Linked DNA regions of Homo sapiens. The protein of the gene in region 2 purifies or fractionates together with the protein of the main gene of each other region. This does not show direct contact. Each region holds a gene or a part of one and is shown on either strand. Other genes may lie near its edges.

Region 1 (7,578 bases), on a different chromosome or scaffold from region 2:
CTACTCAATACAATAGCTACGGAGATCTTGAAATGTGGCTAGTCCAACTGAGAAGCTGAACTTGTAATTTCATTTAATTTTAATTAACTTAAATTTTAATTTTAAAGGTGATATGCAGACAGCTACAATATTGAAGAGTGCAGCTCCACATTGAAGATAAAGCATGTAAATATCACATGCTAGTCAACGAGAGACATTTCATTTGATGCTGCTAGATGCTAACTAATGTTTAAAAGGAAGAAAAATTTGCATACTATTATATTACCGTTAACACCCCTACTGACAAGGTTGCCATTAAACAGGAATTTCATTTATGAATACAGGGAATATTTGATGAGCTGGACTTCCTACTTTAAGTTCAAACACACATGTATAAACAACCACTTTATTTTTTAAAAAGTTATAATCAAGGCAAAACTTACTTAAACCAGTAAGCCTTATCAAATTAAGATATAAATCATAACAAATGTGTTAAATCTTTTCTCACATATATTGCAACAATGTCACATATCATAAATGGTAATGCCTCAATAAACTACTCAAGTGATAAAAAACAGGCTGTGTTTCATACACAAAGATGATACCAATGACCCATCACTAAAGGAACAAGGTGAATGTTGTTTTTCTGCCTGAATACAAAAGTATATTTTCCCACAATACCCTGTGACTATAAAACAGCTGACTAGGTATATAAATACGAATTATGACTATAAAACAAATAGTAGCTACCTCCACAATTATCAAATCCATAACCTTGGCTTTAGTCTGAGGTTCAAAAGTGTTAAACTCATTGTCTAAAACTATAACTTAAGATTACTGTCCCTTTTCAAAGGTATTCCTCCCCTAGGTCTAAGACAACATTTTAGGGACACTCAATAAAACGAAAGATTCTAACTCAATTTCTTTGGCATCATTTAAGGCCAAAGTTTCTTCTTTCCAACAAAAAAATGTAAAAGATGTACCCATATTATTTGATAAAATAGCATAAAAGATCTATTGATGTAGCCTACCTGATCAGCTACTCCTCCAGGCAGAATGGTTTTTACTATCACACCAGTTGCTTTTCCTCCTATGATGCCAAATCCCAAACCAGATCCATCATTCACCAATTCAATCGTTTCCATGTGTTGCCAGTGAACCTACAAACAAAGCTCATATATGAATTTGTAGAAATTTACAAAGCACTACCATTTTACATTACAGTAGAAATTTTTGCGATTATTTTGTTAATATTAAATAATTAAATTCAGACATAATAATGAGTCCTAACAATGTCCCTTTCATTTGGTATACTTCCCTTTCAACAGAATGTAAGTGCCATTGACAGAATCATTCTTGAAATTATCAATATATCATCATAATGATTTCACTTCAACAGTTAAAGACAGGCATTGATTTGCAAGATCTTTTGTAGAACTTCTTTAAAAAAAAAGAAAAAGTTCAAAGAAAAAAAAAGGTCACATGTTAAGAATGTCTTCTGCATAATCCTGCCTTGAGGCAGGATTCCAAATTAGATGACTTCTTAAAAGTTACTGACAGCTAACTCTAACAATATAATTGTATAATTTTTAAAGCAAAATCAAGCTTGTATCTGTCTACAGATAAAGTCAATTTTGTTAAAGGACTACATTTTTCATTTTTAAGGAATGCTGTCAAAGGACAAAACTACACAAAGAAAAGTAATTGTTGTTTTAGAACTTAGAAGCTTTATCATGCTTAAAGAACAAATATTCCAGGCTGGGGAAAAATAAAAGAATAGTCAGACAAAAACTCAAGAAGTGCAAAGACCCTACACAAATTAGAAACTTGGAGATAACCAAAAACAACTTGAAAAATACGTTCTGTTCCTTTTGAAAATTTTAGGTACTCACCGGATTAGAGTGAGCTGAAATTGTGCTGGCTGCAGATGGAGAACGGGAAACTATGGGGCTGACAAGCTGAGGCAATGAGCCTCTGGCAATAACTAGCTGGACAGTATCTTTGGCTTTCTGCAGGATGCTGATAGCCTGCTGATGTGTAATTGTCTGATCAAGAGCCTGTCCATTGATAGCAAGAATTTGATCAGTTTCTTTCAATCTTCCATCTCTATCAAGGATGCAAAAGGGGATAAAAGACAATCTGAGAGTTCTCAAGGAAATGACAGCTTCTTTGGCATGTATGTTCAAGTCATTTTTAATCCTATTTTTAATTCCCACACTCTAAGCTTTTTCCTGCAGTTCTACTTTAAAAAAAATACACGCCTTGGCTGCAGGTCATCAACTCTCGTAAGGTTATTTCACTGCTACTCCTACTGAACCCCTCCCATATAAAAGTACTCTTTATTTCAGCTACCTACTCAGCCTACATTACATCTTGGATATTCTCATCTTCTAAAAATGAAAGTGGATATATCTATACAGTTGGCCTTGTGTATCCATGGGTTCCACATCCATAGATTAGATCCCCAACTGGGGATCACATCCATAGATTAGATCCCCAACTGGGGATCACATCCATAGATTAGATCCCCAACTGGGGATCACATCCATAGATTAGATCCCCAACTGGGGATCACATCCATAGATTAGATCCCCAACTGGGGATCAAATATACTCAAAAAAAATAATGCCACAACAATAAAAAAATCACACAAATTTTAAAAATACAATATGACTACTAATGTTTACATAGGATTTGCACTGTGTTAGGCATTATAAGTTAAAGATGATTTAAAATATATGGGAGAATGTGCACAGGCTATATACAAATACTATACCACTTTATATAAGGGACTTGAGCACCTGCAGATTTTAGTACCTGCAGGAGTCCTGGAACCAATTCCCCATGGATACTGAGGGGCAACTATATTAAATTATTGCTCTGGGTACATAAAAAAAATGCAGCTCGAATTATTATGGGTCATTTCTAGCATGGTAATTTTAAAAATCTAATCAAAAAGAGCCCATTTAATTAACAATGAAAATAATGTTATCCTCAAATTTTTCTTTCCTTACCAAAACTTAAGTTATGACTATATCTAAAAGCTACTCTCATTTCAAAGAACCTGCTATTTTATCACAACAATGTTAATGACTTCTAAAAACTGGTTAATAACAGATTATGTTCAATTTTTTGTTGCCATTCATTATTATTTTTCTAAATTCCTGCATAGTAACCAAAACCTTCAGAATGTGGGATCAAAAACAAAGAAGACGCCGCGACCATCTCACCTATGGGCCACACTGCCCTCTTGTATCTCTTGAACAAATATTCCCAGCTCTCCTCTGTTTTCACTTCTTAGTCCCACAACACTAAACCCAAGGCCTCCAGATGGAGGTTTGAGGAGCTCAAAAACTTCTACATGGCGACCCTGTTTAGGAAACAAAGCAAGAAATAAAACTAAAAGCCAGGCCATGCATGGTGGTTCACGCCTGTAATCCCAGCACTTTGGGAGGCCAAGGTGGGAGGATCACTTGAAGCCAGGAGTTAGGGACCAGACTGGGCTACATAATGTGACCCCATCTCTATAAAAAATAAAATAAAACTTAGTAAGTGTGGTGGCACACATCTATAGTCCCAGATACTCAGGAGACTGAGGCAGGAGAATCCCTTGAGCCCAGGAATTTGGGACTGTAGTGAGCTATGATCACAACACTGCACTCCAGTGTGGGTGACAGAGCAAGGCATGTCTCAAAAAAAAACTTAAAAGCCAATTACTGCAGTAACAGTCATCTTATCAGAATCATTTCTTTGTTAAAAAAAAAAGAAATTGAATAACATTTTTCCAAGGTAATTGTTAGCACTTTATCCTGAAGAATATTTCTATAATACAACATATAATACTCAAATTTAAATGATGATAAAACTGTAATAGAAAACGTCTGAACCATCTAAACTCCCACAAAACTGACTTTTTGTTCCAATGTTTTCAGATGTTATAAATGTCACTATATTCTTCAAATTATCCATAACTTGATCACATTCTTAAATTACTACAGGTATTACAATAACTAACAGAAAGAAATGTTCTTACCTGGGCCATATTTTTGATAAGCTGATCAAATTCATCACAAGCAGGTTTCCCATTAATGTGTGGAATACCAGGTCCTGTAAGTGCTTCCAGATTCCCATTGTTTGGGGATAATAAAAACGATTCATTTTGCAGAGTAGGAATCACAGCTGGGCTGAGATGAGGAACGTGGGCATATTCAATATTTGAAGTTGCTGAAGTTGCAATATTTACCTAAGAGTAATGCAGGGATTATTAAGAATTTTGACATTCCATAAACTATTTCATAGAAAATATCCCAAGGGTACAAGGACATACAAATGAAATTTCAAAATGTCCAAATCCTTTAATCCAGCAATTCTATTTTGGGAAATTTATTTCAAGGATGAACATTAGGATAATACACAAAGATGTGTGTGCATCACTAAATGTTCAATGCAGCACCATTTATTAGATGGGAAAATTCAAAAACTACCGCCAGGGTTCAACTTCAGGGTACTCATTAAAACACACCCATAAATATATACATCCACACATATATTTTTCTGTCCCCAGATCCTATGAAGTAACCTCTAAACTCTCAGAATTTCCCCTCTCAGAATTTCCTGAGTGATGAGGTATCTTTCTTCTTCATGGTGGGCCCCAAGGCCACATGATATAAGCCCAAACTCGGAGCTGAATTTTAATCATATAGGCAGGGCAATCAATCACACCTATGAAATAACACGCCAATAAAAAATGCTGAACACCAAGATCAGGTAATCTTCCTGGGTTTGCAACACAGTCAAACACAGCTATACATGTGTTTGTGCTTTAAGCTAAGTGCTATTATGAGAGTCAAAAGTTTAAAAAAAAATTAAGACTTTATAAAGGAAAAAAAAGTTACAGTAAGCTAAGGTTAATTTATTATTGAAGGAAGTTTTTGTAAATTTACTATAGCCTAGGTGTACAGTATTTATAACTTATGTATAAACTCTATGCATAAGAGTTTTTTACCTGTCCTTAAAAATAAAACAGAAAACTCATTGTTACCAAAGTTACCAATAACTCAACCATTATATTGGCTATCTAGTAGCATACAGTATATTGACTATCTAGTAGTGTACAGTAATGTCGTAGGCCTTCACATGCACTCACCACTCACTCACTGATTCACCTATAGTAACTTCCAGTCCTGCAGGCTCCATTCATGGTACGTGTCTCCTATACAGGTGTACCATTTTTTACCTTTTAACCACATTTTTACTGTACCTTTTCTATATTTAGAAACACAGACAATTACCATTGTGCTACAACTGCATACAGTACTCCATATAGTAACATGCTGTACAGGTTGGTAGACTAGGAGCAATACCAAATAGCCTAGCTGTGTGGTAGGCTATATCACCAAGGTTTGGGTAAGTATACCCTACGATGTTTGCACAAGGATGAAATCACCTAATGACACATGGCTGTACTCTATACATATTGTCACACATCGATTCTGGGAGAGTTATACTTTCCCAGCAAAATGGAAGCTTCCAGTTTGGAATCCTCCCATAATCTGCACTACGCATCTCTTCCTTTGGCTGACTCTTGACTGCATCCTTTCCCTACCATAGATCATAACCATGAGTTTAACAGATTTCAGAGACTCTCTAAGACCTTCTAGTGAATTATGAAACCTCAAGGTGGCTAGGGGAACCTCGCAAATTTGCAGCTGACATCATAAGTGAGGGTGGTTTTGTGTATCCTTATACCTTTAACTTTGTAGCTGGACCCTAACTCGCCACAGTTGGTATCAGAAGTGTGGGGCAGCACTGGCAGTCTGGAGGACTGTGCCCTCAAATCGTGCTGTCTGGCTAACTCCAAGTACAATGACACACGTAACAACAACGGAAAAGATCATCCCACTTTGGGAAATGATTCTATAATTATTTGTGTGTGCCTTTTAAAAGAGTTTGAAGTTAAATCTAAATAATAATAAAGCAATGCAGTCAATCCTAATTTCATATTTATGTTGGGTGCCTGGATTGTGACTTTTTATCTGTAACTACTTATCAGAAAGCTTACTTCATTGATGTTTTTGAGTCACTCTCTGACCTCATCTCCTAGCAGTCTGTCCCTCACCCACTTAGCCCTAGCTGTGCTCCCCTCCTCACTGTGCCTCAAAGTGCCAAGCTGTTCACTCTACCAAACAGGTATATTCTTCCCCAAATATCCACATGCTTCCTTATTTCATTCAGGTGTGCCTAATCTCACCACAGAAAAGTCCTCCTTCGCATTCCTATCTAAGACAGCACCATTATACTCCACGAACTTACTGTGCCCTGTTTTAATTCATGGCACTCATTACCACCTGATCCACACCCTGCTGTCATGAAGCTTTCATCCCAGTCAGTGGAGACCGACTAGAATGCAAAAACTCTCCAGTGGAAATTTTTGACTATTTTATTTTTACTATGCCCTCGTTCTCTAGAAGAATGCCTTATACAGAGTTGTTCAACATACATTGGCAGAAAAAAAATGTTTATCTATTTTTTAAGGATCTAACTCTGATCCAATCTCCTGAACAACCTTTCAAGTATCATCTCAATGCTAAGGATGATGAAATTACGTAAAGTCACACAGCTAAGTTGTTTGTGACCTAGATTTTTTTTCATCACGGTGTTCCTATCATCCTTGTATTATACAGAAAACATACAGTCCTTGTATTATCCACAAAACATTTGAGATATCATTTAAAATAAAACATTAGGTAAAGAACATCCACTGACAGAAGCTATCAAAATATTTCACAATATGTCACCAAAATCTATACATAAGAGTTTGTTACCTATCCTTAAAAATAAAACAGAAAACTCATTAAGTTACCAAAGTTACCAATAACTTAACCATTATATTAGCTTTCTACAATCACAGATGAAAAAGAGATCAATGTGTTGAGAAGAGACTTTTGGGAATCCTTTTAAATGTTTATTTTAAAATCTATAGCAGGCATGATCAATTATTATTTTTTCAAAAGTAAGCTTCTTATGCCAAGATTGATTTTTTTTTTATCCTGAGCCATGGCAACTTCAATAAAGTTTGCCAGCAGAAGACACGCAGCTCAGGTTGAAGCAGATGGCATAATGAAATTTGTGACAGCCTGAGGATCCCACACACCAAGACCTAATGGCTATGGTATGTTTGCATAGGAAAAAATATTTGGACTTATGCTATGGTAAGCCAGAATGAACAAATCGCATCCCGAGAATAGAGAGTCTGTCTGTAAGAGATTCATGGTAAAAGAGAAGCTCTGATATTATGAAAGAGTAGGTATACAGGCATTCTAAGAGTAAAGTGAGTGAGAGCAGAACAAGTAAAATATTACAAAATGAGAACTGTATAAAAGTATTTAATATCAATTGTCATTTCCTAATTTGTTAAAGGTTTGAGGAAGGTCAATGACTCCTCCTGCTTCATCCCTGACCTTGAGGTCTACATAAATGTAAAAGCAGAGGTTATAGAGATCACATATTTAAAAACTATTATTTAATTATACCACCATACAAAAGTCTTATTTATAAATTGGCAAATTTATACTCATAAGAAAAAGCAGAAAGGCACCT
Region 2 (7,578 bases):
GTTCTGTTGCTGTTGACCAGGCTGAAGTGCAATGGTGCCATCATGGTTCACTGCAGCCTCAACCTCCCACACTCAAGAAATCCTCTCACTTTAGCCTCCTGAGTAGCTGGGACCACAGGCACACACCACCAAGTCCAGCTAATTTTCGTATTTTTTGTAGAGACAGGGTCCCACTGTGTTGCCCAGGTTGGTCTCAAACTCCTGGGCTCAAGCGGTCCTCCTGCCTCGGCCTCCAAAATACTGGGATTTCAGGCATGAGCCACTGCGCCAGCCTCACGTACATTTTTAAACACTAGGTAAAGTGGAAAATGGCTTTCATCAAAAAGTTTCTAATCTTACCAAAAAGACAATGTTAAAATAAGTCTTAAGGCAGGCTATATTACAGACAAAGCAGAAAAGCCAAGGGCTTTGGGATCAAATAAAATTAATTCAACTCCTTTCTATCACTTATAATAGGACTATGGAAAAAATATTTAATCTCTCTGAGCCTCAATTTCCTCATTTGTAAAAAGAAGAATGCTGACAAAGAACTTGAAATGTAGTTGTTAATATTTAAGAAATACATACAAAGGATACAGCATACAGCATAACACATTAAGAGACACAGCGAGGGATACAATTCTGGATAAGAGGGGAAAGCAGAAAGTATTGTGATTTGGTCAAATGAACTATCAATCTTGCTATAAATTTTAAGTATAAAAGGATAAGGTATAAAAAACAGAAGGATAAGATTCCTTTAGGATGCCTACAAAAACTATGAAATTTATTTTCGTTAACTCTAAGTATGTACTGATTACCCTTATGCAAATCATTATTGTGAAAAACATTTGCAGGTCATTTATACAGTCGATGAATCACCTGGATCAGAGACCTGTATCTGGGGTTCATGACTTTATTTCCATGAATCCCTGCATATTGTATGAACAGTGTGTGTGTTTCAGAGGAAGGGCCCAGATGACTATCAGAATCACAAAACAATCTGTTTAACTAGAATTTTTTGTTTAATATTAGACAGTTAAATCTGCATGTCCAGTACACATAAACTGGAGTTTATACAGTTTTCAATGTGAGGCAATGTGATTTCCAATACTAAGACAGAAGAACCACTGTTTAACACATAACTTATTTTCTTCCAGATTTTTTTGGTCAGTAAATATTTGAGTGTCTAGTACTTCTGAGCATAAATGAACATCAAACAGTAGTCACAGCTCTCGATAATTTACAGATGAGTTACAAAAAAGAATAAATTGTTAATGCATACTTTACTAAAATTTTAAGAACTAAAACTTATTGCCAGTAGGAGGGTATGGAACGTTCCTGGAGGAAGGAAGAGTGGGTGGCTGAATTTTAAATGAAATTATGAACACAGCCTCTTGGAGAAGGGTTACTTTCGTCTATCTACATCAATGGTTTTCAAGTTGTAGGATGTGACCCATTTGTGTGCCATAAAATCGCTCTAGTGAATCTCAACCAGCTTCATAAAAAACAAAATAGAACAGCTTTATCTTGATAGAAACTCAGAAAAAAAGACTTTCCGAAGCGTTACTTACATTTCAAACATAACACAAAAATGAGTATCTAAATATGGATACTCTAAGTACAACCAAGTCCTAGCAGAGCACCTAGCTCACTACATTCATAGGAAGCAATCACGTTAAACGAATGCAGTCTTAAAGGCACTTCTAAAACACACAAGCAAAATACAGATTGCCTACTTCTTACATCAAAACAAAATAATGTATTTTAAGTTACATTCTCAAACCTTTTCTGTGACAATGTAAAACTCTCAAAATATAATGTTTTCACACAAAATCCTCAACTTTTTGTGTGAAGTTTCTCAAATTGTGAAGCCAATTATGATTTATATCAAAAAAGCATAACTCAAAAGATAACTATAGACACATAATTAAAATTTCTAATATTTGAACTTATTAGATATACTACAAACTGTAAAAACCTGACTCTCCTTAATTATTTCACATCTGTTGGTTTGTGACAAAGCACTGTGCAGTCTTGAAACAAAAAGTGAATAAGTGAATATTTATTAAGTATCTGCTATGTGTCAGATATTTTGCTAGGTGCTTTCCATATCTCAGCTTGAATTTTTCAATCATCTTTCAAGGTGGCTACATGTCATAGGTGAGAAAAGTGAGGCTTGGCCTAGAATTACAGCATGAAATAAATACCCCAAGCTTCCTTTTACTACATTACTACAATTACTGTCATTTCTCCTGCTGATTTTTTGCCTTAAAACATTGGTATGAGGCCAAGCATGGTGGCCCACGCCTGTAATCCCAGCACTTTGGGAGGCCGAGACGTGCAAATCACCTGAGGTCAGGAGTTCAAGACCAGCCTGGCCAATATGGTGAAGCCCCATCTCCACAAAAATACAAAAATTAGCCAGGCATGATGGCGGGTGCCTGTAATCCCAGCTACTCGGGAGGCTGAGGAGGGAAAATAACTTGAACCCGGGAGGCAGAGGTTGCAGTGAGCTGAGATCATGCCATTGCACTCCAGCCTGGGGGACAGAGTGAGACTTGGTCTCAAAAAAAAAAATTGGTATGTAGGCCAGGCGTGGTGGCTCATGCCTGTAATCCCAGCACTTTAGGAGGCCAACTTGGGAGGATCACTTGGGTCATGGAGTTCGAGACCAGCCTGAGCAACACAGTGAGACCCCATCTCTATCTCAAAAAAATAAAATAAAAATGTTGGTATGTAAACTAAGTCCAGAGGTCAAATCAGGCACACCTTATTTTTATAAGTAAAGTTTTATTGGAAAAGTCATGCTCATTTGTTTGGCTACCTCTGCCACTCTAACAACAGAACTGAGTACTTGCAACAGAGACAATATGGCCCACGAAGCTAAAATACTTACCGAAAGTTGTTGACCCCTGCCTTAAAGAAGCAAAATGCCAAGAACCCTGGAGGCCTCAAAATTTCAACGTCTTTGAGGGTGTTTGAGACTATTAACTGAAGAAGAAACTATAAAATTATATGAGACAGAAAGCCAAATGTTTTAATTTTTATAATGTTATATCATAATCAAGAAAATTTAAGTCCTACTAAAATGTAAAATGTAGGTAGGTAACTGTTAATGAATACCTTGACTCTACTGACTTCATTAAGTATTTTAGTTCACAAAATCTTATATTTGGTTTCCTTTTTTTTTTAAGAAAAGAGATCTTGTTATGTTGCTCAGCTGGACTCAAACTCCTGGGCTCAAGCGACCCTCCCACCTCAGCCTCCCAATTGGCTGGGGCTACAGGCATGTGACATTGCTCCTTCATTTTTAAGAATAAATGTTAATGTATATTAGTTTTTAAAAATCCAAAATGATTTTTGTTTAAAATAACCCCAGAGTTAGTCCCAGAAACATGCAAATATGGTTCAACATTTGAAAAATCAGTGTAATTCACCATATTAACAGATTAAAGAAAAAAGTTCACACAATCATCTCAATACATGCAGAAAAGGCATATGATAAAATTCAACATCTATTCATGATTTAAAAAACAAACCCTCAGTAACCTAGGAACAGAAGAAAACCTCCTTAACCTCCTTAACAGAATGCACAAAATGACCTACAGCTAATATCATTTTTTAAAAGTGAAAGACTGAATACTTTTCCTTTAAGAAAGTGAGCAAGAAGCCAGGCACTGTGACTCATGCCTGTAATCCCAGCACTTTGGGAGGCTGAGGTGGGCAGATCGCTTGAGCCCAGGAATTTGAGACCAGCCTGGGCAACATGGTGAAGCCCTGTCTCTACTAAAAATACAAAAAATTAGCTGGGCATAGTGGCACTTGCAGTAGGTCCCAGCTACTCAAGAGGCTGAGATGGGAGAATCAACTGAGCCCAGAAAGTCGAGGCTGCCGTGAGCAGTGCTGCGCCACTACACTTTAGCCTGGGGATAGAGTGAGACCCTATCTTAAAAAAAAAAAGTGAACAAGATAAAGATGCTACTTCTCATCTCTCCTATTCGACATCTCAGTGGAAGTCCTAACCAAGACAATACAGCAAGTTAAGGAAAAGAAATAAAAGGCATACAGACTAGAAGGAAAGAAAAGTTTTGAGCACGACTGTCTACTTAGAAAATTCCAAAAAAAATTACTAAAATAAAAAAGCTCCTAGAGCTAATAAGGGAGTTTAGCAGAAAGTCAGGATACAAAGTCAATATACAAAAATTAATTTCTATATACCATCAGTGATCAACTGGAATCTGATTTTTTTAGATTACCATTTACAATAGGACCAAAAAATTAAAATAATTAGGTATAGACTTAATAAAGTATTTGCAAGATCTGCATATTGAAAACTACAATACTCACATAAATGGAAAGAAATAGCATGTTCATAGATGAGAAGACTCAAATTATTAAGATGTCAATTATCTTCAGGTTGATCTCTAAATTAGACACAATCTCAATCAAAATCCCAACAGAATGTATAAATTATCAAGATGATTCTAAATATCATACAGAAAGCAAAGGAACTAAAAATAGTCATAACAATTTTGAAAAAGAATACAGTGGAAGAGTCACATTACCTAATGTGAAGACTTATTTTAAAGCTATAGTAGGCTGGGTGCAGTGGCTCACGCCTGTAATCCCAGCACTTTGGGAAGCCGGGGCAGGCAGATCACGAGGTCAGGAGATCAAGACCATCCTGGCCAACACGGTGAAACCCCGCCTCTACTAAAAATACAAAAATTAGCTGGGCGTGGTGGTGCGCGCTTATAATCCCAGCTACTTGGGAGGCTGAGGCAGGAGAATCACTTGAACCCAGGAGGCGGGAAGTTGCAGTGAGCTGATATCGTGCCACTGCACTCCAGCCTGGCGAGAGAGCAAGACTCCATCTCAAAAAAAAAAAAAAAAAAAACCTATAGTAGGCCAGGCTCAGTGGCTAACACCTGTAATCCTAGCACTTTTGGAGGTTGAGGTGGAAGGATCCCTTGTGCTCAGCTGCTCAAGACCAGCTTGGGCAATATAGGGAGATCTTGTCTCTACAAAAAATTTTAAAAATCGGCCTGGCATGGTGGCATGTACCTATAGTACCAGCCACTGGGGAAAGTGGGAGGATGGCTTGAGTCCTGGAGGTTGAGGCTGCAGTGAGCCATATTCACACCACTGTACTCCAGCCTGGGTGACAGAGTGAGACCCTGTCTCAAAAAATTTTTAAATAATACAGTCTGGGCAACATAGCCAAGACCTTATCTCTACAAATAAATTTAAAAATCAGCCAAGTGCGGTGGCACGCCTGTGGTCCCAGCTACTTGGGAGGATTGCTTGAACCTGGGAGGCCAAGGCTGCAGTGAGCAGAGATCACACCACTGCACTCCAGCCTGGACAGAGAGAGACCCTGTCTCTAAATAAAAAATAAAAATATAAATACAATAAAATAAAAATAAAAAATAAAAAGGATAGACAAAATAGATCAATTGAAGAGTCCATAAACAAACCCAAACAAATGCAGTCAAATAGCTTTTGACAAAGAGACAAGAGGAATACAATGGGAAAAAGATCATGTTTTAAACAAATGGTCATGGAACTGGACAAACAAATAAGTGAAACAACTTGTACTTCTCTCATTTTATACAAAAATAAACTCAAAATGGAACATAGATCTAAAAATAAAATTACAATATAAAACTTGGAAAAAAAAATTGGAGAAAAATCTCTCTGACCGTGGATTGAGCAAAGAGTTCTTAGATACAATATTCAAATTTTAAAAATTAATAATTTGGACTTTCTCAAAATATAAAATTCTATACTTCAAAAGTAATGAAGTATAGAAGTTATGAGGATGAAAAGGCAAGCCAGAGTGGAAGAAAACCTTCGTAAATCACTTATCTGACAAAGATAAAGGACTATATAAAACTTTTGGGGCAGCGGCTCATGCGTGTTATCCCACCACTTTGGGAGGCTGAGGCAGGAGAATCACTTGAGCCCAGGAGTTCTGAGACCAGCCTGGGAAACATAGTGAGACCCCATCCCTAAAGAAAAAAGGAAAAAATAATAAGATAATAATAAATTCAGCAATAAGACAATAATCCAATTTAAAAATGGGCAAAAGTTTCAGACACTTTACCAAAGATAAACAGATGGCAAATAAGCACATGAAAAGATGCTCAACATCCTCAGTCATGGGGGAAATGCAAAGAAAAATCCCAACGAGATACTACTAAAATGGCTAAATCTAAAGACTGACCATACCAAGTGCTGACAGGAATGTAAAGCAACTGACCTCTCATATATTGCTGGTGGAAATGCAAAGTGGTTCAGCCACTTCAAACCCAGCCTGACAATGTATTAGTTTCCTATGCCAATGTAACAAATTGCCACAAATTTAGTGGCTTAAAACAACAGAAATTATTTTACAGTCCTATAGGTTAGAAATCTGGCATATGTCTCCCTTGGCTAAAATTACTGGCAGGGCTGCTTTCTTTTCTGGAGCCTCTTCAAGATTCTAGACACCACTCATATTCCTTAGTTTGTGGCCTGCTCTCCTCCATCTTCAAAGCCAGCAACTTTGCACTTCTCTGACCAATTGTTACATCTTTTTTTCCTGACTCTACTCTTCTGCCTCTCTCTTTCCTTTTTTAAAGATTCTGTGATACACTGGGACCACCTGAATAATCCACAATAATCTCCCTAAAGTCATCTGATTAGCAACCTAAATAAGCCTTTGCCACTTAAGCAAACATATTCACAGGTTCCAGGGATTAGGATATCTTTGAAGACCTTTATTCTGTCTACCACAGATAGGTCTTTTTTTAATTTTAAGATAAAATTAGGCTATACCTACCATATTCCATCTACTTAAGAGAAACAAAAACTTAGGTTTACACAAAAACCTATTTGCAAAGATTTACAGCCACTTTATTCAGTCACAAAAAACCTGAAAACAACTCAAATGTCCTTCAACTGGTGAATGGATAGGTGATGGAACTGTTCTTTACCTTGATTGTGGTAGTTGCACAGCTCTCTGAGTTGGAATTGTACAATGAAAAGTTAACTTCATTTCATGTAAATTAGAGTTAAATATTTTTTAAAGAAAAGAAGCAATTATATCATTTCTCATCCACCAGATTAGCAAAAATTTTAAAATCTTACGATGCCCAGTGTGGGCAAGAATGTGAAGCCACTGTCACTCATACTGTTTGCAGGAATGTAAATGATTACAGCATTAAAAAGGGTAATTTGGCTGTAGCTAGTAATGTTGAAAACACATATCAACCTATTATCAGCAATTCCACTTATAGGTAGGTATACATACATTCTAGGAAAGCGTCCACACATGCGCTCAAGGAGACATACACAAAGATATTCATTAAACATTGTTTGAAATATTAAAAAACTGAAAATTCTTCAGTAGGGGAATGAATTGCAGTTAGTAGTTATTAAAAAAGAAAACGGAAAAAATCCATGACAGAAAGAATCCTGCCAGTTAAGTGATTTGGAAAAGGCAACTTATTGGTTTATCTAACAATGAGACATCCTGAGAAGAGCACTGAATTTAGAATATGGAGACTTAGAATATGGAGAACAGCATTTTAGCATTCATGTAGTTCCAAGTCTGCC
Region 3 (7,578 bases), on a different chromosome or scaffold from region 2:
TCTAGGAAATTCTAACTTTTTGATAATCAAACTCTAATGCTAATTAAAAATATTTTAAAAACTATGCAAGATTATGAATAGTACAAATCTAGGTTGTAAATACTATTGTTCACAACACAAACTGGTGACTGTAAGTTCTTTCATATACATCCATTTTTCTATCATGAAAACTATTTTATAAAGGAGAAAACAGGCATATGGAAGTTAAGATACTTGTTCAGTGTCACACTAGCCAACTTAGACTGGAACTCAGATCTTTGGGGTCTGAATGCAGAATTTTTTCTGCTTGTATAGAGTTGTGGATGTGTGTGAGTTCTTAAGTTAAAATTGGACTGATAACATCTTTATCTTCTACATACAAAGATATAGTTGGGTTTTTTTCATCCTGTTCATTGTAGATGGCTTTTAAGAACATTTGGGCAGTTCAAATTTGTTGCTCTCATTAAAATTTGTGTAATTTGTTATGATTTCTTTATTGATGGCATTTTATCATGGTTGGAATAAATGACGAGGGCTTGATTTTTCTTGAGTTTGACCTAGAAAAAAAATTAATTACTTAAAACCTAGTAAAAAATACATATTCTTTGTGTTGTGTTTATACTTAGAACATTTTAGAACTTGGAAAAGCACCCATAACTGCACTGACCTCTTAAAAATTAGGTTTTAAAATTCACTATTATTTTTGGAATGTTTTATTCATTCAGTACTAGTTGCCCTTACATGTCTAGTGTGGACCAGGGGAAATTCATTAGATGGACTGCTCATCAATACAATTACAAACATTTATAAAATTTATATTAAAATTATATAATATTAAAAGTATCCATTTGAAAACCTGTGTTCTCCAGTGTCGAATATTAAATGTTGAAATTTTCCTTTGGTACTTAGATATTCGGCTGCAATTAAGCGCTGACTGGGAAATTTAAAGGGACTCAGTTGTGTTTTTTCTTTTTTAATTTTTCATCTTAATATTCCCTAATAGGCCAGTACTGATGCAGGCACTGCAGGAGCCCTGACTCCACAGCATGTTCGAGCTCATTCCTCTCCAGCTTCTCTGCAGTTGGGAGCTGTTTCTCCTGGGACACTGACCCCCACTGGAGTAGTCTCTGGCCCAGCAGCTACACCCACAGCTCAGCATCTTCGACAGTCTTCTTTTGAGATACCTGATGATGTACCTCTGCCAGCAGGTTGGGAGATGGCAAAGACATCTTCTGGTCAGAGATACTTCTTAAAGTAAGTGAAAATAATGGTGGGAGACAGTTATCTAAGACAAATATGTATTGGAAAACACAGTAAAGTGGTGTCAAGATACAGAATATCATTTATTTTTATGTTTTATTTAATATTTATGTTAAGCTCTGTAGCTCTATCTTCCATATATATGTTTCAGTTTGGTATGACCTAAATACCTTTGTTAGTATGGGTAATATTTTGAAAGCTTTACTGAGTCTTGGTTCTGAGCCTCTTTATAATCTTTTCTTTTGTGGAAGTTTGGTTATTCTCATTTTGAGCTTGTGCCAAACCTTTTAATTAGCCTAGCACAAAACAGAAAGAATACCATGAAAATTTTCAAATTCTGGGAATTACAGGGCTAGCAGCGTCTTACAAAATACGTATGGTGCTACTTGTATCTTTTTAAATAAATATTTTATTGGTAGAGAACTACAAAATAAGTAGGGCTTTTGGGGGAGTCTAATTTTACAGTATTTTAAATTGTGAAATGACAAGCACTACAACTGAAGCTTGATGTGACTTACCAATATTTCCCCCCAAAAATGTAAAGGGAAATAAAAATTTTTAGGTTTCATATGCAGTCGCTCAGTGGCAAACTTCTTTCAAGCTAGTAGGTCTTCACAACAGAAACCCTCCTCTCTGGGAAAACAAAAACATGACCGTTGGGTTGTTTATTTATTTTTATTTTTTCAGTCCTTTTGTGTTTAATAAAATGGCAGAATTACACTAGGCTGAAAAGACATAAATAGAATTTTCTCTCCTCTGATTTTGAAATTACAGATAAGACCTCAATTTTTTTCTGGCTTGTTTGGATCAAGTATATATTGAAATGTTGACTAAAACTAATTATGATAGACTGAAATTGATGTCTTTAAAAAAGCTCACTTAATAGTGTTTAATCAGGTTGAGATAATAAAGTGAAAAACAGTGTAAGTTTTGATTCGGATAGGTCTTGACAGTCTACTCCTAAGGCAAATGTAACATTTATTTATCATACCAGATAACACCATTAAGGATGTTTTGTTGTGTGAATCCTAGTATGTGTTTTATATTGATTGTCTTCCAGGGTGGGTTGCTACTTTGTAATGTAAGATAGAAAGTTTTGTGACAGACTTACAGAAGAGCAAAGGAAAAGGTTTGATCATGAAAAGTTCGTACAGTTTTTTTTTGCCCCCTTTCCTGCAACTTTTTCTTTTCTTTTCTTCTTTTTTTTTAAAAAAATTCATTTTCTGGTGTCCTGGTATCCATTTCAAAGGATCAGGTTTCAACCAGAACAGTAAAGGGCCTGAGACTGGAAAGTACACACAAGTCTGGCAAACTCATCTGCATGAGCAAGATCATTTGTTCTCAAGCAGACATCCAAAGTAAATGATTGAAAGAGCTGCTAGCTGTGAAGGATGTGTCTTGAAGGGGAAGGGAGTGGAAACAAACCAGGTTGTTAGGAAGAAAAAGAAAGGCTGCACTTTTTTGAACCTCTCCCTGCTGGGTCACATGCTGACCTGGGGAGATTGTTAAACAGCTTAATAGCCTGCTTTCCTTCTTTCTTTGGTTGATGCTGTGGCTAAAAGTATAAGGTTAAAGAGCAACATTTATGCTCTTCTTCTTAGTTCTTTGTATCTTGTAATAATTGCTTGTAGGTGATACCTGCCTACGATTTCATTATTTTGAATGAATGATCTTTTTTTGAGCTGAAATCAGTATTCTAGATACAGTTGGCCTTCCGTATCTGTGGGTTCAGCATTCATGGATTCAACCAACCTCTGATTGAAAATATTTGGAAACAAATTACATCTGTATTGACTAATGTACAAACTTTTTTCCTTGTCATTATTTCCTAAATAATGTAACAACTATTTAGCCTTTACGTTGTATTAAGTATTATAAGTAATCTAGAGGTGATATAAAGTATATGGGAGAATATGTATAGGTTATATGCAAATATTATGCCACCTTATATGAAAGACCAGAGCCTCTGTGGATTTTAGTACATGTAGGAGGTCCTGGAACCAATCCTTGACCACAGATGCTAAGGAATGACTATTCATTTTTCAAAGTTTCCAGTGATTCTTCCTTTGTGAAGAAATGTTTCTCTTAAAGGTATTGATATATGTAGATGGATTAATGAAGGGTATATACCTTCCAACCCCAGTCACCTCAATTCACCCCTGTCAACTATGGGCCTGTAAGGAAGATAAACCAGGCTAAAATAAATAAATCTCAAATTATGTCATAGGAGAAAAGGTTGCAAGGGTAGAGAGATATTTACCCGGAAAAGAAAAAACTGGGAGGAGGAGAGATAAGACATGATTGTTGTTTCAGTGTTTCTGGGGAACTTTTATGTGGGAGTAGGATTAGTCTTACTATATAAGAAATGTGAGGAATTTTGATTCCATGGAAGAATTTTCTTATATAAAACTTTTAAGAACTAGAAGAGTTTTCCTGGACAGGTAAATCTTGCTCAATAAATGTAGGTAAAATCATGGTTACTTGGTATCTGTCAGGGATTCTATGGAGGCCCCTAAACATTGGATGTGGGAGAAGAATGCTGTGGGCTTATAAAATTTTGTATTTTAAAGAGTATCTGCTTTATGAACATTATGCAATTTGGAGAAAAGTTATGAAATAAGATTATTTCACCTTCTCCAGTTAGCTACTTCCATGATGTTATGGACCGTATAGTTGTTACAACTTCTTTTTGTGTACTGAACAGACAAATGAGATTAATATCCTAACCATTAGTCAAAGATGATGATAAACTAAGCTTTTGGTGCCAAGTTTCTGTTGTCAAAGTTCATTTTTATCCTAGTTTTGATGTTTTAAAATAGGGCTGTCTTTGTAATCAATATTTATATACTTTCCTCTTGTATCTAAAGAGGAGTGTTGTTGTCATCAGATGTAGAATGAAGATTTAAATTAGTTGCCTTACACTTGTTTCCGCAATGAAACATTTTATTTTAATGCATCTTTTTAGATATTTGTTGGAACTGACTTTTAAGTTACAAAGTCTATAACTTATTGAGATTTATATTTGGCATGAAGAACCTGACTATAAATGGTCCAGACAGGCAAGACGATGTAATTTGAGAAAAAACTTAGAAATGTTAAGAAACAACCCAGTTGTTGGCCTTGTGACCATAGATGATTGAGTTTTTGAAGTTAGTTGGCCTATCATCTAGTTTCCAGGCAGCATGATTACTGAAAGATTATAAGCAGGCAATCATTCGTTGTTTTAAAGCCCTCCTTAGGTCAGTGAGATCTTGTGGAGGAGACTCATACCTTACTTTGGCAAGTGATACGGTGGAAGTATGGTGCTAGTTACATTTATCAGTGGCTTGTTTTCAAGCTCTGGGATGAATGTGAAGTATGTAAACAAGGCTTAGCCATATAATATTTGTTCTACTACATTTACTATTCAAAACTATTTTCTTTACCATCGTATTGAGCTTTCATTTTAAAAGAATTCATTCTCTTTATGACTCTGAGAGTTATTACCTTCTTCAGCTGTCTTACGGTTTTCCTACAGGAAATAGTTCTTCAAGTAGTTGGTCAACAACTTCCTATTTCTTTATAAGCTGCTGAATAACTTCCTGACTCAGTATTCTATAATATCTCTGGTTTCAAGGAGTGTTTTACTTGCAAGTTTATTTTATTGACTCTGATGCCTTATAACTATTACCATGTTCAAAGATATGTGTTCTTATATATAATGTACCATGTAGGACCTTATAATTTGATTTAAGGAATCTGGATCAGTGATTTTAAAAGTTTGTACATTTGCATTGTTTTAATAATGTTCTAATAATTTTTAAAGCACAGTTTTGTTTCATTTCCATTGTTTATCATTTTCTGAATAACTGGCCACAATGTTTTTAGTCTGCGAAGATTCAAGGTTTTTTGTGGCTGTGATTTGATTAAGTTATATTGAGTAGCTTGGTATACAATTTAAAAAGGATATGTTTTTCAGAGATTTTTGACATTGCATGGCATAAAACTACCCATATTCCTATATTAATTTGCCTTGTAGATGTGATTGATCGCTATACATAGGCTGATTCTTTTTTCTTTCTTTCCTTTTTTTTTTTTTTTTGAGACAGAGTCTTGCTCTGTTGACCAGGCTGGAGTGCAGTGGCACGATCTCAACTCACTGCAACCTCTGCCTCCTGGGTTCGCGTGATTCTCCTGCCCCATCTCTACAAAAATACAAAAATTAGCCGGGTGTGTTGGCGCACACCTATTGTCCCAGCTAATCAGGAGACTGAGGCAGGAGAATTGCTTGAACCTGGCAGGTGGAGGCTGCAGTGAGTTGAGATTGCACCACTCCACACCAGCCTGGGCGACAGAGCCAGACTCTATCTCAAAAAAAAAAAAGACTATGAACATATACAGTGTATGTTGTTATCATATACAGTGTACCTGGTATTTATACATTGTATACAGAACATATACAGTGTATCTTCATAATAAAGATTATGCCTCTTTAAAAGGAAGTTTCATGAAGAATAAGGCTATACTGTTTCTTTCTGTATCAAGTATAACCCAGAGTTTCCCTTTAAAACTGAAAAGCTTGTAATTTTGCCATTAAATGTTAAGTTGCACACGTGCACATGTATACACAAACAAAAAACCAGTTCAAATTGCAATCACGAAGTATTTCCCTATTTGAGGGAAGGCCAGTCTCTGCTTGTTTGTCTTGCTATTGAGGCTGAGTGGAGAGAGAAGATGAAAGTACGCCCTTAGCTCTGGGGGGTGGGGGAGAGCTTACTTCTGCTCAGTGGGTGGGCATCCCAGGGAAGAATGGCACACAGTGCCACAGTGATTTAGGGAGAGAACCCTGGAGAAACTGTATTCACCAGTGGCAGAAGAAAAACAGTTGGAAGATAGTAGATGTGACAGAGTAAATAGAACATAGAGATTAACATATTCCCTGGGAAAAATAATGGAATTTTTTTAGTGTGAACTAAGAAAGAAGTTCACTAGAACTTCTTTGCATTATTTAATTAATTTGCAGCATCATTCAAAGAACAGACTGTCACTTGGTGTGTTTAAAAATTATGATTCTTAGTTCTAGAAAGAATTCTAGAACTATCTCTGGAAGTTTAAATGTAGCAGACTCAATTGACTGCAAGGTGGTAGGCTAATTTTCTTTTTAAAGTCACATTTAAAAAAAAATACCCTTTCCTAAAGCTTTATCTTAGCCATTAAAAAAAAACCCAAACATCTAGATAGCATTTAAATAGTTGAAACTTGGAAAAAAAAAAAACCCAGGTTTTTACAACCCTAAAATAAGTCCTCTTTAGTTATGTAGAGAAATATTTTACTTTGTAGTTAGAAAAATAATGTGAATTCACAGCTTAAAATACTCAGGGTATCATGACTCTGCATTGCCTTGTACCTTAAGGCTTTGAGGGGAGGTAAACTCTAAACTGTTTTATTGCCAAAATATATATAGAAATTTAAGCTTAGGACCAATCAAAGTGAAGTCATTTTAAAAATCAGTTGCTAAGATTTAAGATTATTCAAACTTAATGCTACCCTCTGTAATAGCATAATTTAGCCATTAATTGTGGCTTGAAAGTTTTTAATAATAGCTGAGTAGCATTGTATAAAGGGAGGTCTTAAAGAGCTGTGTCGTTCTATAACTGTGGTTACTAGGTGATGCACTTCTTACAAAAAGGGCTTCTGATTCTAGGATTAATCAGAACTACAAGCCATGAAAGGGACATTGCCGTTTCTATGAAGAAGAATTGCTTCATGGTTCTGGTTGCTCAAGTGCTGTAGCACCAAGTTTCCTGGGAACAAGTACTGCCACCGTGGAAGCACTTTTATTTACGTAGGGCTTGACCCCTTCTAAATGCAAACAAAGAAGTTTGGTTTAAATCACAGCAGTCCTCCCCACCTCCCCTTTAATATTCTAGACAAGGAAAATGGTCAGTATTTAATCCTCATTTTGCTCCTAGCATGAGAAGAATCATAATTTTTAAACACACCAACCAAGTGATAGTCTGTTGTTTCTTTGAATGATGTTGCAAATTAATAAAATAGTGCAAATGGCAGTATCTATTATTTGGGTTTTCTTCTACCAGATATTTTCAGTGCTTTATTTGTGGTTAGTGCCATTACTTCATGTGCTGTCACTTTAATTTGTCTCTCTATCTCTTTATGGGATGTTAGTCACTCGACTATCAAGTTCTTCAGCAGGATTCTCAGTTGGGGGTGGGTGAGGGGACATTTTATTAAAAGCTCCTTCCTTTGTCTTCTTCCAATTGATTGCTTAACCTAAAGGGAGAGGAGTTCTGTTTGTTTTTAAAGTAAGGTATTTATTTGGCCAGTAAGTATGTTTAGAGA
Region 4 (7,578 bases), on a different chromosome or scaffold from region 2:
ATACTATTCCTGGTAGTGGTGATGGTGGAAGTGATCCATCCACATACTAATTGTTTCCCTTAATGGCTAATAGTCATTAGGTATGAATTATTTATACTTAGGTGTTAGCATTTTGTACCTGGTAATTAGGTACAAAAATGGGAGAGCCACATTAAACAATGTACCAAAGGTCTCTTTCTGGAACTTTCTATGAGCAATAGGTTGGAAATCTAAGTATCAGTGCACAGAAATCAATGCATTATGGCAGTAGAAAAAGCCAGAAAATGGGAATTGGGAAAGAAGGATTCTATCTTGGCACCACCACTCTAATATTTGGCAGATGACTTCCCCTTTCTGGACCTCATTCCCCATCTGTCCAGTGATAGAGTTGAACTAAATAATTTTCTTTTAAGGCCTTTCCAGTTCTTACATTTTGCGATTCATTACATCAAAAATAGTATGTTAGCATTGCTTGTAACCCTCTTCAAGTCTTTTTATGGTTACTGCTAATGGGAATCATTAAATCGTTAACAACTGGAAGCAACAATAATCATTTAGTGTCTCTAATATAAGTATCTACCAATCCTTGAATAGTTTTTTTTCTTTTTTTTTGTGAATGTATGAATTACTAAAGGGAGTTGCAGATAGCAAGATGGGGGTGGTTTTTATGGCTGTTTGTTGTTTCCATCCTGGCAAATGGAACATAGTTTCTAAACTAGGATCTTTATGTGTGCTGGACCACGTGTATAATGTCAGAAAAGGTTTAATTTAAAATAATGAGATGAAAATTACCTTGTAGAAGAATCGTTTGAAATGTTTAGACTTGAGCAAACGGGTGTACAGGTGTGTATCACTACGATTTTCACAAAGTGACCATGGAAGTTGTCTGGTTCTGACCCTCATGGGATCACACCTCTGTTTGTCAGGCAGAGGCACAGAAGGTCAGGCTGGAAAAGGGCTGTGGTCTTTGCAGAGATAGAGCAGGCAGGGTTAGACTTCCCCATAGTCAGACCCTGCCTGCTCTTCATTTTGCAGGTGTCCTGGGGGCATCAGAAGCCTCCTCATCTCACTTTTGTGTGCCCTTCTCCCCCAGTGCCTTAGGAGAGAAATTAACCCGCACCTGCCCTTCATGTTTTACAGGCCAGCGCAGGACATCTCATTGCCATTGTCAGCCAGGAACTCGCAGCCTCACAGCCCTACTTCTTCTCTGACCTCTGGGGGGTCCTTGCCCTTGCTACAATCTCCACCATCCACTAGATTGTCTCCTGCCCGACACCCCTTGGTCCCAAACCAGGGAGACCATTCAGCTCACCTGCCTAGGCCGCAGCAGCATTTCCTTCCTAATCAGGCTCACCAGGGGGATCATTACCGTCTCTCCCAACCTGGCCTGAGTCAGCAGCAGCAGCAACAGCAGCAGCAGCACCATCATCACCATCACCACCAACAACAGCAGCAGCAGCAGCCACAGCAGCAGCCAGGAGAAGCCTATTCAGCTATGCCTCGGGCTCAGCCATCCTCTGCTTCTTATCAGCCAGTGCCAGCAGACCCTTTTGCCATTGTTTCCAGAGCCCAGCAGATGGTTGAGATCCTCTCAGACGAGAACCGGAACTTGAGGCAAGAGTTGGAAGGATGCTATGAGAAGGTGGCAAGACTGCAGAAGGTGAGGCTTCCGTTTTGGGATATTAGGGTCTCTAAGTCTTTATTTGTGAGACTTGTTTAATATCCACATTAAAGTCTCCAGTTGTGAATCCCAGCATTACTTGTGGCAGGTCTTCAGGATTTTTATATCTGAAGGTTAGATATGAGTCAAACTTTGGAAAAAGCCTTCTACCTGTCTACCTAGGAGAAGTAACGTCTTACATTTACACAAGGAGAAAAAAATTTATGCAGTTTTTCCAGACGCTATAGCCCTAAAGAAAACGTGATTAATTCTTTTAGAATTCCAAAAGGCAGTGATACTTCTTGATAAGAATACTGGTGATGCCTTTATAGGTAAAGGATCTGACGGCACCTTAAGGCTCATTGTCTTGGTCACATTTTCCCAAATATGAATTTGAATCTTAAATATAAAAATAAATGTAGTTCCTAGAAAAATCTCACCAGCTAAAGTTTGAGCAGTCCTGCCTTGTTCTGGAAAAGGCTCAGAATACTTTTTCCTAGTGGGAGTTCTCATAGTAACTCTCTTTCAACAATCCCTCCACCCCACCCTTTGATTTGGTCCCTCCCTGCAGCTCAAATTCAACATCTGCTCTCTTTCTCTGTTGTATGTGGGGGGCAGGAGGGGCTTAACACCACAGCTGGGTGACAGGTGACAGCCCTAGGCTGAGGAAATAGAAAAAGGAGTGTATCTCCAGTTCACATTCTTCTCTGCCCACCCCCATTGGGACTTTACCTCTGGAGTACCCCAAGCGAGGAACCTTAGCTCTTGGCTTCCAGGGGCTGCTGGTGAATAGGGTTATGCCTTTGGCCGCTTCTTTGCAGCTTTTGTCATTGTGGAGCTATTGTGGTTTGGTCTCCCTACAATGTGAACTGTTCAGAGAGGTGAGGGTGAAGGTGGGGGAGGGACAGGAGGATGCCTTGTATTGTCCAGCAACTCTGTCCTTAGGAAACACCAGGAGTGAAAATTTCAGAGGCCTGAATGAAGCTGAGTATTTGTAAACAGACACCAAATCTGGGGGCCTCAAGGAGACAGGGGCTTATTATCAGCAGATGATTTTTTTTCTTTCTTTCTTTTTTTTTTTTTTTGAGACGGAGTCTCGCTCTTGTTACCTAGCCTGCAGTGCAATGGCACGATCTCCACTCACTGCAACTTCCGCCTCCTGGGTTCAAGCAGTTCTCCTGCCTCAGCCTCCTGAGTAGCTGGGATTACAGGCATGTGTCACCACGCCTGGCTAATTTTGTATTTTTAGTAGAGACGGGGTTTCTCCATGTTGGCCAGGCTGGTCTCGAACTCCCGACCTCAGGTGATCCGCCCGCCTTGGTCTCCCAAAGTGCTGGGATTATAGGCGTGAGCCACTGCGCCTGGCAAACAGAGGATTTTTATATAGGAAAATGGCTTCCCTGTCCCTTAGTTTTCCTAAATCTGGATGAGGGTTGTTGGAGTGCTCTGAGAATTGTTTCTTCCCGGCTTTTCCCTGATTTTGTATTTTCACCCGCAAATTTTAACTATATCCCTATCCCCATCGCTTTGGTGAAATAAATTAATTATATCCATACACTAGAAACCCAGTCTGGCTGATTAGGCTAACAGTTGACACCCCCTCTCCAAACTCTCTCTTCATGGTGATCCCAGCCCATCTTTGATACAATCACTGAAGGATGAACCCAGCTCTAATACGGGCCCTTTTTGCCAGAGGATCCATGGTGATTTTTTGTGTGTGTGGGAGTGGGTTCAGCCAGTGACAGGGAAGAGGGACAGAGAATAGGATTGCTGTTGTTTGTTCCCCAAGATGGGAAAAGATGCCTCAAATAAGTGTAACTGGAACAGCTTGAATGTTGGGAAAGTAGAGGCTGACCCAGTGTCGAGGTAGAGTAGAGGGGAAGGTGGACCAGGAGAGGAAAAGGAAAGTGGGGAAAATTAAGGTAGATCCCAGGTAGTGCTGGAGGAAATGAAAAGGCCTGAGGCTCATGAGGGGAATAAGTAGACAGAGTAAGTCTGGAAAACCCACTGCCACCCTCCTCTCTGCCCCCACCATCACCCAGCCCAAACCAGTGGATATATCCTTCTGTGATGGCTTTTCCTGGAAGGCCCTATTGAGAGCTGTGGGACTTGCCCTTTTGAAGGATGGAGTATCTACACAGGGGGTAGGGGAAGGATTAGTACAAGATCTTGAAATAGCAGTCTGCACACCTTGAGGAAAGGGACTACCTTCTAGGTGTTGCATTCTGTGCACAACCGGACAGCCTTGAACTATAAATGCTGCCCAGAGCAGACCAACACCAAGCCTGCTCTTTCAGATGGAAATGTTTATTTTCTCTCCCCAGCGCTTGAGTTTCATGCAAAAGCTTCATCAGGCGCAGGCCTTGCAGATCTTGTCTCTAAATGCCATTCACCAGTTTTCACCTTCTGTGCTGCTATCTTGGTGCCATCTGTGAAGAGAAAAACACTTTTGAGTCTGCTCTTTTCTGTGGCATAAGCCTTATTTGTTTGCAGGCAGTCCTGTCTCTGGCAGAATTTTGGAGATGGAGGCGGGTTGAATCTGACTGGTTTGGCAACCTTACCTTTCCCCTAGTGTCCCATTAGGGGCCTGATATTTCTTCCCTGAAAGTACCCTGAGCTTTGTTAAACAGGATAGTGGAAAACACAGAAGCAATGCAGAATGGTTGCAGAGTCCAATTTAATCTGAAAATTGCTTAATAGACCGTGGGTTTATTTGTCTTATACAAATTATATGCAAATATCTGTGTGGCTATTATATGTGCAATGGAGCTATACTAGTTACAGAAAAACTCTGGAGTCTAATTTCTCATTTTCGGCCTGATTGTGGCTGATTCAGGGGAAGACCCTTTCTCTCTGAGTTTATTTTCCCCATTTTATGAGATTTGCAGGGGTGTCATAAAACACAACTCTGATTATGATTTTGTGTTCAAAAACCTATACTGGTTTCCCATTGACTATGGGATAAAGTCCAAATGCCTGGCATTAAAAGCATTTTATGATCTGACTCCAATCTATCTTAGCAGCCATATCTCGCCAGGTTCCCTCTGCGTACCCCACAGTGTCCAGCCAAATTAAACGACTGGTCATTCTGGGAATGCATTTGCTTACTCAGAATAGAATACCCTTCCCCTCACCTCTGCTCATTGAAATCTGACCCAGCTTTCAGGATCTGACTGTAAATGCCACCTCTTCTCAGAAATTGTTCTCCTCCCCACTTCCCCAACCAGGAATAACTTCTTCCTTGTCTGTACTTTATGGCACTACTTCTACTTTTCTTAAAGATGTATCTTGCCCTATAGTCTTTCATTCGATTGGATTGAAACCTCCCTGAGGGCAGTGAGAATGTTCTCATTCATATTTACACACCCCCAATAGTACTTTAAAGAGTTCGTGTAAATATTTGGCCCTTGGTAAATGTTTGTTAAATTGAACTGAACTACTTCATGAAGCTTGGGGTTTTTAGGGTTGGTCTCTGCTGCTGACAGTTGATCTTCAGAGGCAATTTGACTTTTCTCTCTACTAAAATGAGAAGAGGTATCCTGTCTAGGCAGATAATCAGTGCAGACTGGAACCAACATGTGAAAGCCCTTTGAATGCTTTGGAATATCTACATACTATATATATTATTACTAATATTTTCAAAATTAAGAGTTTTCTTCAGAAATTAAAATCCTTTATAACTATTTATAAAATTTATTCTATCTTACCATCTCCTCTGAAGGCAGAAATTGTCTATTTTTTTAACCCGAGGAAAGACCATGACACCATGAGTTAATTACTAAGCTTATGGTTGAAGGTGGAGATCCTTTCTTGAAACTTGTGTCATCTGACTGTGTTATGCTTGCCTCCTGGCCATCTGTGAGCCCTGGGAGAAGCTGTCAGCGAGGATTTGCCTGTTTGTTTTCAGACCATTTTCCCCATCACCCTCCTACCATCACCACCATTGTCTTTTTTTGTTGTTAAGGTGGAGACAGAAATCCAGCGCGTCTCGGAGGCATATGAGAACCTCGTGAAGTCATCCTCCAAAAGAGAGGCCCTAGAGAAAGCCATGAGAAACAAGCTAGAGGGCGAGATTCGGAGGATGCATGATTTCAACAGGGATCTGAGAGGTGAGGGAACCAACAGACTTGTCTTTGTACTTCTGAAGCAGCTGCAGGGTGGTGAAGGGAAGGGCTGAGCAGGATCCAACTAGGCTCTTTGGGGTTGTCCAACCCACCGGTATGGGCAGTAAATGGCTGGGCATGTGCCAGGCTAATTTTTTGTGACTGCAATAGTCCTCAGTCCCAAGCTTGATTGATCAAAGTGTGGATGTACCTCACTGGTCTTCTGAGCAATGAGCTGATGTGTTAATCAGGCAGGATCCCTGCTGGGACTCCTGGACCCACCTGGCCCACCCCCACAATAGGTGCTGCCTCTTCTTTTTAACAGGTTTTACAGAGGCGTGCCCTTTGACTGCAAGCTTGAAGTATAATGTCCTCTCTTATTTCCAGGACTGACTGACTCCTTTTATTTTTGACTTTCACCTGATAATATTGAAGACTTTGGGAAATATTTCTACTTTAAAGTGCCTTCAGCACCTTCAAAACTGCTAACCTTGGGGATGGTACTTTCTTTTTTTTTTCCTTTTTCTTTTCTTTTTTTTTTCTTTGAGTTGGAGTCTTGCACTGTCGCCCAGGCTGGAGAGCACTGGCATAATCTCGGCTCACTGCAACCTCCACCTCCCAGGTTCAAGTGATTCTCCTGCCTCAGCCTCCTGAGTAGCTGGCTGGGATTACCAGCGTGCGCCACCATGCCTGGCTAATTTTTGTATTTGTAGAGATGGGGTTTTGCCACGTTGGCCATGCTGGTCTTAAACTCCTGACCTCAGGTGATCCACCCACCGTGGCCTCCCAAAGTGCTGGGATTACAGGCATGAGTCACTGTGCCCGGCCAGGGATGTTACTATCTTTGAATTTTGGTTATTTTATCTTTAAAGTCAGGGGGCCCAAATACATGCTGCTAGTTGTCCCTTTCAACTTTGACATTACATGAGTTTAAATACTTTATAATAACTGTGATACTCTTTTTTTTCTGGTTAATGAAAGATATCTTTATATATTTGGGGATGGATAATTTCATTGAAATTTAGAATTCTGCACTTAACTTAGGTTTTGGCAGTGAGGAGTGAAAGCATTAAATACTTACCTCCTCCTCCCCGGCCATGGTCTAGTATTATTTTGGGATTCACATTTGCAAACTCATGTTAGTCACCCATTCCTGTTTAACAAGAAGAAACAGGCTTGTTTTACCAAAGGTCAGTATTTAGAGGGCCAATAGTATGTGCATGAAAGTTTACATTTGAGACCCTGTTGATTGTCTCCAAATTTCACAGAGCGTCTAGAGACTGCCAACAAGCAGCTTGCAGAGAAGGAATATGAGGGGTCAGAGGACACCAGAAAAACCATCTCGCAGCTCTTTGCAAAAAGTAAGTCTGCAAGCTGCAGAAACAGGTATTAACGTGTGGATGGGAGCAAGGTGCGTGAAAAGATTACACTGTTCTCTTTAGCCTTTTAGAACAGCCAGGGCAGAGTCAATATCACCTAAGGATTGTTTTTCCTATTCAGGCATGAAGTTGGAAGATTCTGTTCTTTTCCTCCTAAGCCAAGAAGGCTGCTTGCCACAACATCTCGTCACATCACATTGGTCCTTCAGCATTAAACTAGAGAAGCCCCTTGAAATCCCTGCTAGTGTCATTGCTATCTAAATAAAGAGGCTTACTGAACATGAGGTCCCTTCATGTTGAAGGGATTTTCTTAGAAGAAACTGTGTGTTGGCTCTGGTAGAGATGGGATTAATATGCAGGATCGATGATAGTGTTTGGAATACTTCACCTGTACCTGGGGCTCCCTAGTATTTATTGTTACACAGCAGCAGATTGCAAGGGGAGCTAATCCTATGGC

The links.
Region 1: the proteins of PALS1 (region 2) and MPDZ purify together in Homo sapiens (affinity purification with mass spectrometry; 3 studies listed by BioGRID and IntAct, with this or other methods). This does not show direct contact.
Region 3: the proteins of PALS1 (region 2) and YAP1 purify together in Homo sapiens (affinity purification with mass spectrometry; 7 studies listed by BioGRID and IntAct, with this or other methods). This does not show direct contact.
Region 4: the proteins of PALS1 (region 2) and AMOT purify together in Homo sapiens (affinity purification with mass spectrometry; 7 studies listed by BioGRID and IntAct, with this or other methods). This does not show direct contact.

What each region holds. Positions count from the first base shown.
Region 1 is NC_000009.12:13,220,362-13,227,939, forward strand, and holds part of MPDZ (multiple PDZ domain protein), read right to left. Parts: intron 4,223-7,578; coding exon 4,013-4,222; intron 3,350-4,012; coding exon 3,210-3,349; intron 2,086-3,209; coding exon 1,872-2,085; intron 1,140-1,871; coding exon 1,011-1,139; intron 1-1,010. UniProt on the Homo sapiens protein: Member of the NMDAR signaling complex that may play a role in control of AMPAR potentiation and synaptic plasticity in excitatory synapses. Promotes clustering of HT2RC at the cell surface.
Region 2 is NC_000014.9:67,243,948-67,251,525, reverse strand, and holds part of PALS1 (protein PALS1), read right to left. Parts: intron 1-7,578. UniProt on the Homo sapiens protein: Plays a role in tight junction biogenesis and in the establishment of cell polarity in epithelial cells.
Region 3 is NC_000011.10:102,113,162-102,120,739, forward strand, and holds part of YAP1 (transcriptional coactivator YAP1), read left to right. Parts: intron 1-982; coding exon 983-1,233; intron 1,234-7,578. UniProt on the Homo sapiens protein: Transcriptional regulator with dual roles as a coactivator and corepressor. Critical downstream regulatory target in the Hippo signaling pathway, crucial for organ size control and tumor suppression by restricting proliferation and promoting apoptosis.
Region 4 is NC_000023.11:112,809,419-112,816,996, reverse strand, and holds part of AMOT (angiomotin), read left to right. Parts: intron 1-1,119; coding exon 1,120-1,639; intron 1,640-5,603; coding exon 5,604-5,748; intron 5,749-7,010; coding exon 7,011-7,103; intron 7,104-7,578.